Homo sapiens: one gene and its partner. The protein of the gene in region 1 purifies or fractionates together with the protein of each later gene. This does not show direct contact. Each region holds a gene or a part of one and is shown on either strand. Other genes may lie near its edges.

Region 1 (4,947 bases):
AATGGCATGATTACAGTGAAATAGAGGGTCAAGACCCAATTCTAGTGACTGAACAAATCATTGTTTTCCTTGCTAAGCCAGCCTCTTAGTGGACAGGTAAAGAAATTAAACCAAACTAGACTAGCATGAACTATTGCTAATGGCGGGAAAGTGGACTTTGTTACATTTCTCTACTTTATATATGACGTGTCAAATATATATGACTAGGTAAATATATTTAATACTTAATACTGCCCTTTAACAATAATATACCCTTGCCATAAGATATTTACCTAAGTAGATAAAGTGAAGATATTTGCAATGTAAAATTTCTTTTCATTGCCTGCTTTTATTGCCGTGTGTGCCTTTTATTCTTATTTGAAGATCTTGCAGAAATTTTTTCTTCACAGTCTTTTCTCTTCAGTACGAATGTTATAAAAGACTTGGTGAATGAAGCCCTTCCTTGGTAAAAGGAAATGAAAATGCCAGAAATTGAAGATGGAATTAATGCTTAATTAATTTTCCTAGATTGTTTTCTGAATGTAGTTTTTTCTAAGAAGAATGATATTAAAGTTACAGAAGTAATCTGTATAAGAAATCTGAGTCTGTGTTAAATAGAAATTTTTTATTGTTTTGAACTGATTTCCTTCAAGTAAATGTAATGAAATGTAAACCTAATCCAGATTGTTTAAAGAAACTTGTATGAAGACATCTTTTCTTCCTTAATGACCAAATGTGATCTAATAGTTCCTGTACGTTACTTTTCAACTCTAAATTTCATTAATAATCATATTAACGGCCGGGCATGGTGGTTCGCGCCTGTAATCCCAGCACTTTGGGAGGCCAAGGCAGGCGGATCATGAGGTCAGGAGATCCAGACCATCCTGGCTAACATGGTGAAACCCCGTCTCCACTAAAAATACAAAAAAAAAAAAATCAGCCAGGCGTGGTGGCAGGCGCCTGTAGGCCCAGCTACTCGGGAGGCTGAGGCAAGAGGATGGCGTGAACCCAGGAGGCAGAGCTTGCAGTGAGCCGAGATCGCGCCACTGCATTCCAGCCTGGGTGACAGAGGGAGACTCCATCTCAAAAAAAAAAAAAAAAAAATCATATTAACCCTGGGAAGGAGTTCTGTGTATTACAGATTCCGTTTCCTTTCCAGAGAATGGGAGAGCTCAAGCACTCAAGCTTAGAACTGGTTTGCTGTTGTGTCCTTTGTAATTTAGAAATATTTATCATCATTCCTTGTAAACTGTTTTTTGACTGAGATACTTTTGTGATCAAATGAATTAAAAGACAATCCTGAGGTGCAACCTGAGATTCCTGACTTGCGTTATAATAGCATCATGTTACACCAAAAATGTGGAAGACTCCATTGGAGATCTATTAAGTGAATATTTTATACAAAGACAATCGTTTTTATGTTGAGACTGGGATACAGTGGTGAATTTAAGTGTTCTCACCTATTCAATCTTAGAAAAAAGCTTATTTGAATTAACTTTTTAGCATAGTTGGATTTTTTTTAATATGCAGGATACGGTGTGTAGGCTGTAGTTTAATTTTGCTCAAAATCTCTTTTTTTTTGTTTTTTTGTGATGGAGTCTCTCTCTCTGTCATCCAGGCTGGAGTGCAGTGGTGCCATCTCGGTTCACTGCAAGCTCCGCCTACCGGGTTCATGCCATTCACCTGCCCCAGCCTCCCGAGTAGCTGGGACTACAGGTGCCTGCCACCACTCCCGGCTAATTTTTTGTGTTTTTAATAGAGATGGAGTTTCACCATGTGAGCCAGGATGGTCTCGGATCTCCTGACCTTGTGACCTGCCTGCCTCAGCCTCCCAAAGTGCTGGGATTGCAGGCGTGAGCCACTGCGCCCAGCTCAAAATCCCATCTTATAGAGAGGGAAATAATTTTCATCTTCGTTTAAAAGAGTTCCGCATGATATTTATGTCCTGGATGATGAGAGCTCAGAATTGGTTCAGTGTATTCTCGACTTGGCTTGAGTAGCAAAAGAGGCGCTTGTTCCTGTGGGCAGTGAAGAAGAAAGGAGAGGATTGGTTGACAGAATGCTGCCACTGTGTAGTTATCCCGTACATTCAACAGATTTTAGTTGAACCACTATGTACCAGACTGTTCAAAGTGCTAGAGATTCAGCTGTGAAGAGGGGACACGATTAATGAACACCAGGCATTGATTCTTGCTGGCAAGAAAAAGCAGAAGATGGGGACAGTGATGGGCTTGAATTCAAGAGACTCTTTTTTTTTTAATAGGGTGGTCATAGAAAACCTTCCAAATTCTTTATAATGTGGTTTACTTTTGTAATTAAAAAGGATTTTGCGAGAGTTAGAAGGCACAGTCCCTAACACTGTTCTCACCTCTGACACCATCTTCAAAAGTTTAGTCATGATGTACCTTCAGAACAGCAGACAAAAAATAAAGTTCAGTGAACTATAAATTACAGGGAACACTGCCCAGGACTGCCTCAGTTTTGGCACCAATATACTAGTTCAGTGGGTTCCGAAAACCACTCTTAGGTTCAGTGATTCACAGGAATGACTCACAGAACTCACTTTAAGCTGTTACACTGATGATTATGGTTTATTACAGGGAATGAATACAATTTAAAGTAAGCCAAGGGAAAAGACTCATAAGGGCAGAGTACAAGAGGGGCTGACATCTGTAGTGTCCAGTCCTCCAGAGACCAAACTGATAGTGGGATCATCCAAAGTCCGCATCGTGAGTCACATTGTTAATGGTCCGCAGGTCAGAGCCCCCAGGCAGAGATCTCTTTACCAAGCAGGAAATTCCAGGGGCAAAGGCCAGACCTCTCCTCGGGTGAGGTTAATTCTTCACTATACAGATTTTTATTCCATAGCAAATTCTGAGGGACGAGAACCTTAATAATAATAAATGGCAATACCAAAATACATGAAGAAAACAAGGCTAGATTTATCAGAATTGTGGAGTGTGTGCAATGTGAGGGATTTTTCCAGTTGAGTTGGCATATTCTTTTTTTGTTTTAAGTTTGTATTTTGTCAACTGGGCACAGTGGCTTATGCCTGTAATCTCAGCACTTTAGGAGGCCGAGGCGGGCGGATCACGAGGTCAGGGGTTTGAGACCAGTCTGGCCAACGTGGTGAAACCCCATCTCTACTAAAAATACAGAAATTAGCTGGGTGTGGTGGCACGCGCCTGTAATCCCAGCTACTTGGGAGGCTAAGGCAGGAGAATCACTTGAATCCAGGAGGCGGAGGTTGCAGTGAGCTGAGATGGAGATCGCGCCACTGCACTCCAGCCTGGACGACAGAGCAGGACTCCGTCTCAAAAAAAAAAAAAAATTGTATTTTGTCTTTTCTTGGTTGTATAAATTCTCCAAAAGTTAGCCATTTAAAAATGTTTAAGGTCTTATTTTCTACTTTGTGATATGTGTGTATAATTTTTACTGTGCAAGTTTTAGCATTTTTGTATAGTCTGATTGTCCATCTTTTCCATAAACTTTAAGCGCACATGAGAATCACTTGGGAAAGAAATAGGAAATTCATGTTCCTTGACTCCATTCCAGAGACTGATTGACATGTCTTGGGCAGGTCCAGGAAGCTGCTTTTTTTTTTTTTAAAGGCAGGATCTTACTGTCGCCTAGGCTGGAGTACAGTAACATGATCATAGTTCACTGCAGCCTTGTACTCCTGGACTCAAGCCATCTTCACGCCTCAGTCTCCTGAGTAGCTGAGACTACAGGAATACACAACCACACCTGGCTTTTTTTACTCATTTTTTTGTAGAGACAGGGTCTCCTCATGTTGTCCAAGGTGATCTTGAACTCCTGGACTCAAGTGATCCTTCTGCCTCGGCCTCCAAAAGTGCTGGGATTACAGGTGTGAGCCACTGCCCCCGGCCTCCTTTGTGCTTTCAGTGTCATGAAATACCTGTATTTGTCAAGAAGATTAAGACCATGTCTTAAAAAAAAACAAAAGCTAGTGAGATACAAGAGATAATCTTAAATATACCTATAAAGTCCTAGGAACTGTTCGTCTGATTTATTTAGGAGCCGAAGTAAAAGTGATCTTTCCTGACAAATACAGAAAGAGATTTTTGCTAGCATCACTTCTTCCAAAACAATTTTCCTCATTTATGCAATAAGTTTGGATTTTCACTTCTTTATGTCACTAAGTTTCTGCGTGTTGCTAAGTTCCTGGCTGCATATTTGGAGTCTCTCCAACAGCAGCATTGTCAGCATTCCCACAGTCGGTTCTTCCGTGTACTTTTGATTTGAATTTCATTTCCAGGGTTATGTCTTGTGTGTTTGGCTTCTCTCTTTTAGCATAATATATCCAAGATTCCTCCATATTGTAGCATGTATCTGGACTTCGTTCCTTTTTATGGCTGAATAAAATTCCATTGTGTGGATATTTTATAATTACTGCCATCTGGAATTTGTTTTGAAGTTTAAGAAGCCAGGTTTTTTCCGTTTGAAAAAGTAATACAGAATTTGTTTTTTAAAATTTCGAGCATTGGCCAGTCACGGTGGCTCAGACCTGCAATCTCAGCACTTTAGGAGGCTGAGTGGGAGGACTGCTTGAGCCCAGGAGTTTGAGGCTGCAGTGAGCTACGTTCACACCACTGCACTCCAGCCTGGGCAACAGAGCGAGACCCTGTCTCAAAGAAAATTTGTGCAAGCACCTCAGAAAGGTAGCAAGGAAAGCAAATGCACTCTACCCACCATTCCTGTCCCCTGCCCTCCTACCTCCCAGACAACCATTATGTTTCTGTATATAATCTCCTCAGCCATGTTCTTCATATGCAAAAAATATGTGGTGTGCAGAATGTTTGTGGTGTATTGGGAGCTGTTTTGTGGAATAAACTTGGCTTCTGGTAAAATTATTGTTTAATTTGTGATCTCAGGAAAAGAAACTGAAGGGTATAAAGGCCTTAAGATTACACAATTAGATTAAAACTGAAGAGAACCCATGTTTTC
Region 2 (4,947 bases), on another chromosome or scaffold:
TTCATCTTAGACTCTGTGTTTTATACCTCCCCCACTTTTAATTCACACACACACACACAACACACCATAAGGCTAGAAAGATAGTTATTAGTAACTTAAAGAAATGGATTTCTCTCTTCATATTTCCAGTATACAAATAACATCCAAATACTCCAGTAATGTCATAAAGTAAGATGGCTGCAGTCAAGCCAGAAGTAAAACCCAGAATTTCTAACTGCTTTGAACATTTGCCAGCTGATAAGAACGTAAAATTTTACCATAAGGCTAAGTGATTCCTGGGGCCTAAATTGGACAGTCAATGAAGAAGAAGTCTTCAGATTTTCAGCACTGAAATACTTCTGTGTTAAAAAAAAAACCCATGTTTGCTTTATTTTCTTAAAGTTTCCTTTAAATTAAAGCATAGCCAATGAATTGCAAATTTCCCTTTTTTTTAAACAGGCTCCTATTTGTGGATGGCAGTGCTAAGAAAACATGACTACTGATTAGTTTTTTAAAATGGATAAATAATAGTAGTTTTCATAACCAGATTTAATTTGAAAGCTTAAATTATATAGTACTTTGCTGTGACTTTTTAGTTTCTTCAACCCTGTGTTAACACTTCATTTTTCATTGTAAAATATCTCAAGAAACTTTTAAATATCTGTGTAATAAGTAAAAAGTAATGTACATGTAATGTATGATGCTCATGTGGAGTTCTTCAAGCTCTTCCTACAGAGATAAGGAAAGAGGGAAGCCTAGGAATATCTTTCCACCCACTTCCTGATCCTTATACTCCCAACTGGGTACCCAGGGCTAACGTCCTTGACCAGACTCCAGGCACCAGCTTGCATCCCTTTCTTACATGCTCATCCCCAAGGCTCATCAAGCCTTGAAAGAGACAGAAAAGAGAATGGAAAGTAACAACCAGAGACAAGAAGAGGGGGTGGAATTTGGCAGCAGGTGGAAGAGGTTTTGTCTGCATGTCTGGTTATGAGGTGCCTCCATCCTCCTTGACCCATCAACAACTGAGTAATGGTTCATATGTACAGGTCACAAGTAGTCCTAGATTGTAATGTGATCCTGCTTATATTTTGCACACTTTATATATCTGCTGGCATTTTGTTAGGTCTCTAAATATATAAACTCATAAAATTATCATACTTAACATGTTTTAGAAATGCTAGTACCATAACACGGAAAAAAATAAGATGTACCTGCTGGTAATATAAGCATTCATAAGCAGATATAAGCAGAGTCAGTAAGCACAGAGGTTAAGGACACAGACTTCGGGGCCAGGTTGCCTGGGTTTAAATCCCAATTCAGACAGCTTGCTAGATGAGTAACCAGGAATAGTTTTCTCATCAGCAAAATCGAGATGATAGCACTACCTTACAGGGTTGTAAATTTTAAACAAGTTAATCTGACTATAAATATTTAAAACAATGTCTAATACATAGTGCTTTATAAGTATTTGTTCTTGTTAATATACCATGCCACCTTTCTAATGCTGTTTCTTTAGATGGCTCAATCTGACTTGTAATTAGTAGGTTACATTTATACTAATACCACAACCTTTAATGTATAACCACTGGATAGCAAATCCCCCTTCCTCAGTAGTTTTAAAAAGCAAGATGCTTATTTTTTTTCCTCTTTCCCAGGCCCAACACAGAGATACTTTCATTGAAGAACGCTATGGAAAATATAACATCAGTGATCCTTTAATGGCTCTACAGAGAGATTTTGAAACACTGAAGGAGAAAAATGATGGCGAAAAGCAGCCAGTCTGCACAAATCCACTCTCTATTCTTAAGGTTGTGATGAAGCAGTGCAAGAACATGCAGGAGCGCATGCTGTCCCAGCTGGCTGCTGCTGAGAGCAGGCACCGAAAGGTAGGTTCACCTCAGTTGATGTGTAAATCTTTGTGAAGTCTTTATAAATTATGCCTGATACTTTCTTGTCAGCTGCCAGTTTTTCACAGTAATTCAATTGGGACATCTCACGGGTATCAAAAAGCCCCTTAGTTTATGTAAGAGCCAGGAGATAAAAAAGAAAACACAGCTTATTGCAAATGTTAAGTTTAGAGAACGTGCCAGACACGTTATTTAAGACAGCATTTCTTCTTGATATGTCACTCCAAAACACTTTGTATGTTTTTTCAGTTCTTGATCATTCAAACTTTGGGGTTTGGCCAAGCTTGTAGCTGACGGGAGTGTTCTCTATTTGCTTACTTAAGAGATAAATAAAAAGATTAACAGGTATTTGAGGCATGCTATATCCAAGGGAGAGAAAGAATTTACCTGAGGATAAACACAGAAGCCAATAGATTATTTTCATTTATTCCTATTATTCCTAGTTTTGAGTTTCATTGCATTTTGTTGCTCATGAAACCATAAACAGTCCCTTGGTTTATTTACCTTAAAGGTGTTCTACTCTATTAGTGAGGGGTGTGTGTGTGTGTGTGTGTGTGTGTTTTCCATATTTAACAAGCCCTAAAATAGGAAGGCAAACCTTATGGTTATTTACAGTATTTACTTTAAAGCTGTTCTACCCTATTAGTAAAGAGTGTGTGTGTGTGTTTCCATTTCTAACAAGCCCTAAGAAGGCAAACCTGTGCTTTCCTCTGCTTCATCTTACTGGAATTCTAGTGCTTGTGAATTTATTCACCAACTTGTCATCTTGTCATTTACTCCTCAAATTTGGCCTGTAAAAGATGCTTGGCTACAATCTTCATTTTTAAAACACTGTCAGTTTAGATTTATGCCAACAAGGCAGTTATCAGTGCATTTGGTAGGAAACATTTTCATCTGAAAAATAGGGTTAGCAGCTGCAAAATTTGGTGGACCTTACTTTTATGGTTATCAGCATTAGAGCCATCTTCTTAAATTGCATCTGATACATTTTCTAGGCTCTGGATCTTGCCCGTGATCTTTTCTTTCCCTTCACAGAAGCCAAATGAAAGGCCAGAGTGGAACTTCTTAACCATGGATAGGCCTCAGATGTTCCACAGTCCCCCAGAAAATAGACAGAATGTTCAGAGTTTATGCATTTTTGTAGGAAATGTATTTTTTCCATAGCTTTAATCAGATTCTCCAAGTTACCCAAGACCCAAAAATGTTTAACCTCTGGTTAGAATGAAGTAATCTGAAAACATTTACACTCCAATTTAAAAGGTATCAGTGGGTGGGAGTTAGTTGCCTAAATTGGGTGGAGGGGGAGCTTTTACATAATTCTCTAAAAATCTTCACAACATTCTTGTTTAATAGGCAGGCTTTATTTCCACTTCATCCATGAGGTGACTGAGTTGTGTTGAAGCTAGTTGGGCTAGCTTTCATGCCCATGGAAGGTGTACTAGGGACAGTTTGTGTTTCTAGGTGATTGGAGAGAGGAAGAAGTTAAAAATAATTCAAAATTTCTTAATACTATATTGCAGTGCTAAATGTTTTAAGTGAATATTAAATTTTTGAAACAAAGTACCTATCTATTCTTTTTTTTTTTTTTTTTGAGGTGAAGTCTCACTCTGTCACCCAGGCTGGAGTGCAGTGGTACAATCTTGGCTCACTGCAACCACCACCTCCCAGGTTCAAGTTTAAGTGGTTTATCAAAGTAGAAGACTGACTTTGTTAGAAATCAAACAGTACCTAGAGGCTTATAATTAGGGTGCTCATAGTCTCAGCTTATGCCTGTCACCTTGGCTTAGTTATTAACCATATTCCCTTTGACTGTCAGAAATGTTCTGGTTTGAATAATAAATTACATGGTCATTGTGCTTACAATGAAAAACAGTTTTCTATTCCACCTCTTCTCATTCCCCATCCTCCCCAGTATTCACAGGCAACCAGTTTTTTCTTTTAGCCATTCACTTTGGTAGCTAACCTCCATATTTCTAAATACTGCACTGTTCTCTCTTGCTTTATCAATTTTAGACATTTATATTACTTTCTTTTATATAGGTGCAGATTTAGTTATCTTACACCCCGCCTCCCTTTCCTCTCCTTAACCCTTACCCAGAACAAATTTAATCCTCTTTTCCCACCACCATTCTCTGTCACATCTACTATTCCCAAATCCTGAGCCTGTCACACTATTTCTTGAATGTGACAGGCTCAGGATTTGGGAATAGTAGATGTGACAGAGGCCAGATGCTGATGGTCTGTGTGCAGGAATCAGGGTGAAGGGACAAATAATTCTGAAAATACAGGCTTTGAAGGCCAGACACAGTGACTCATGCCTGTAATCCCAGCACTTTGGGAGGCCAAGACAGGCAGATCACTTGAGGTCAGGAGTTCGAGGCCAGGCCAGCCAACATGGTGAAACCCCATCTCTGCTAAAAATACAAAAATTAGCCAGGCATGGTGGCGTTCCTGTAATCCCAGCTACTCGGGAGGCTGAGGCAGAAGAATAGCTTGAGCCCAGGAGGTGGAGGTTGCAGTGAGCTGAGATCACACCACTGTAATCCAGCTTGGGTGACAGAGCAAGACTGTCTCAAAAAAAAAAAAAAAAACACAAAACAAACAAACAAAAAAACAGGCTTTGAGCCAGTTCTCCTGTTTTCTATTCTACATTTCACCTCTCCTCTGCAGTACCTGCCACCTCCAGGTTCCATCTCTTTGGGGCTCTGCAAGGCAAAACAGCTTCCCTCCTTCAAAGTAAAGTAGTTACCACAACTCCAGCCTCTTTTCTTCTTCAAAATATTATTAAAATTTTTTCTCTGCTAGAGGCTCTCTCCTTTGTGGGGTTTTAGTCTTTTTATTCCATTTCTGTAATTTTTGAGGACTCCCAAAAGGGAGAAGATAAGACTTACCACTTTTGGCCAAAAGCATGTCTTTCTATTAAATTGAAAAATTAGATTAAAAAAAGGAAATGTGCCAAATTTTTTTTCTTTCATTTATTTTGAGAGACAGGGTCTCGCTGTGTTGCCTGGGCGGGAGTACAGTGGCTATTAACAGGTGCGATCATAGCACCCTATAG

The links.
Region 2: the proteins of PPP2CB (region 1) and CTTNBP2NL purify together in Homo sapiens (affinity purification with mass spectrometry; 7 studies listed by BioGRID and IntAct, with this or other methods). This does not show direct contact.

What each region holds. Positions count from the first base shown.
Region 1 is NC_000008.11:30,802,183-30,807,129, reverse strand, and holds part of PPP2CB (serine/threonine-protein phosphatase 2A catalytic subunit beta isoform), read left to right. Parts: intron 1-4,947.
Region 2 is NC_000001.11:112,447,305-112,452,251, forward strand, and holds part of CTTNBP2NL (CTTNBP2 N-terminal-like protein), read left to right. Parts: intron 1-1,637; coding exon 1,638-1,868; intron 1,869-4,947. UniProt on the Homo sapiens protein: Regulates lamellipodial actin dynamics in a CTTN-dependent manner. Associates with core striatin-interacting phosphatase and kinase (STRIPAK) complex to form CTTNBP2NL-STRIPAK complexes.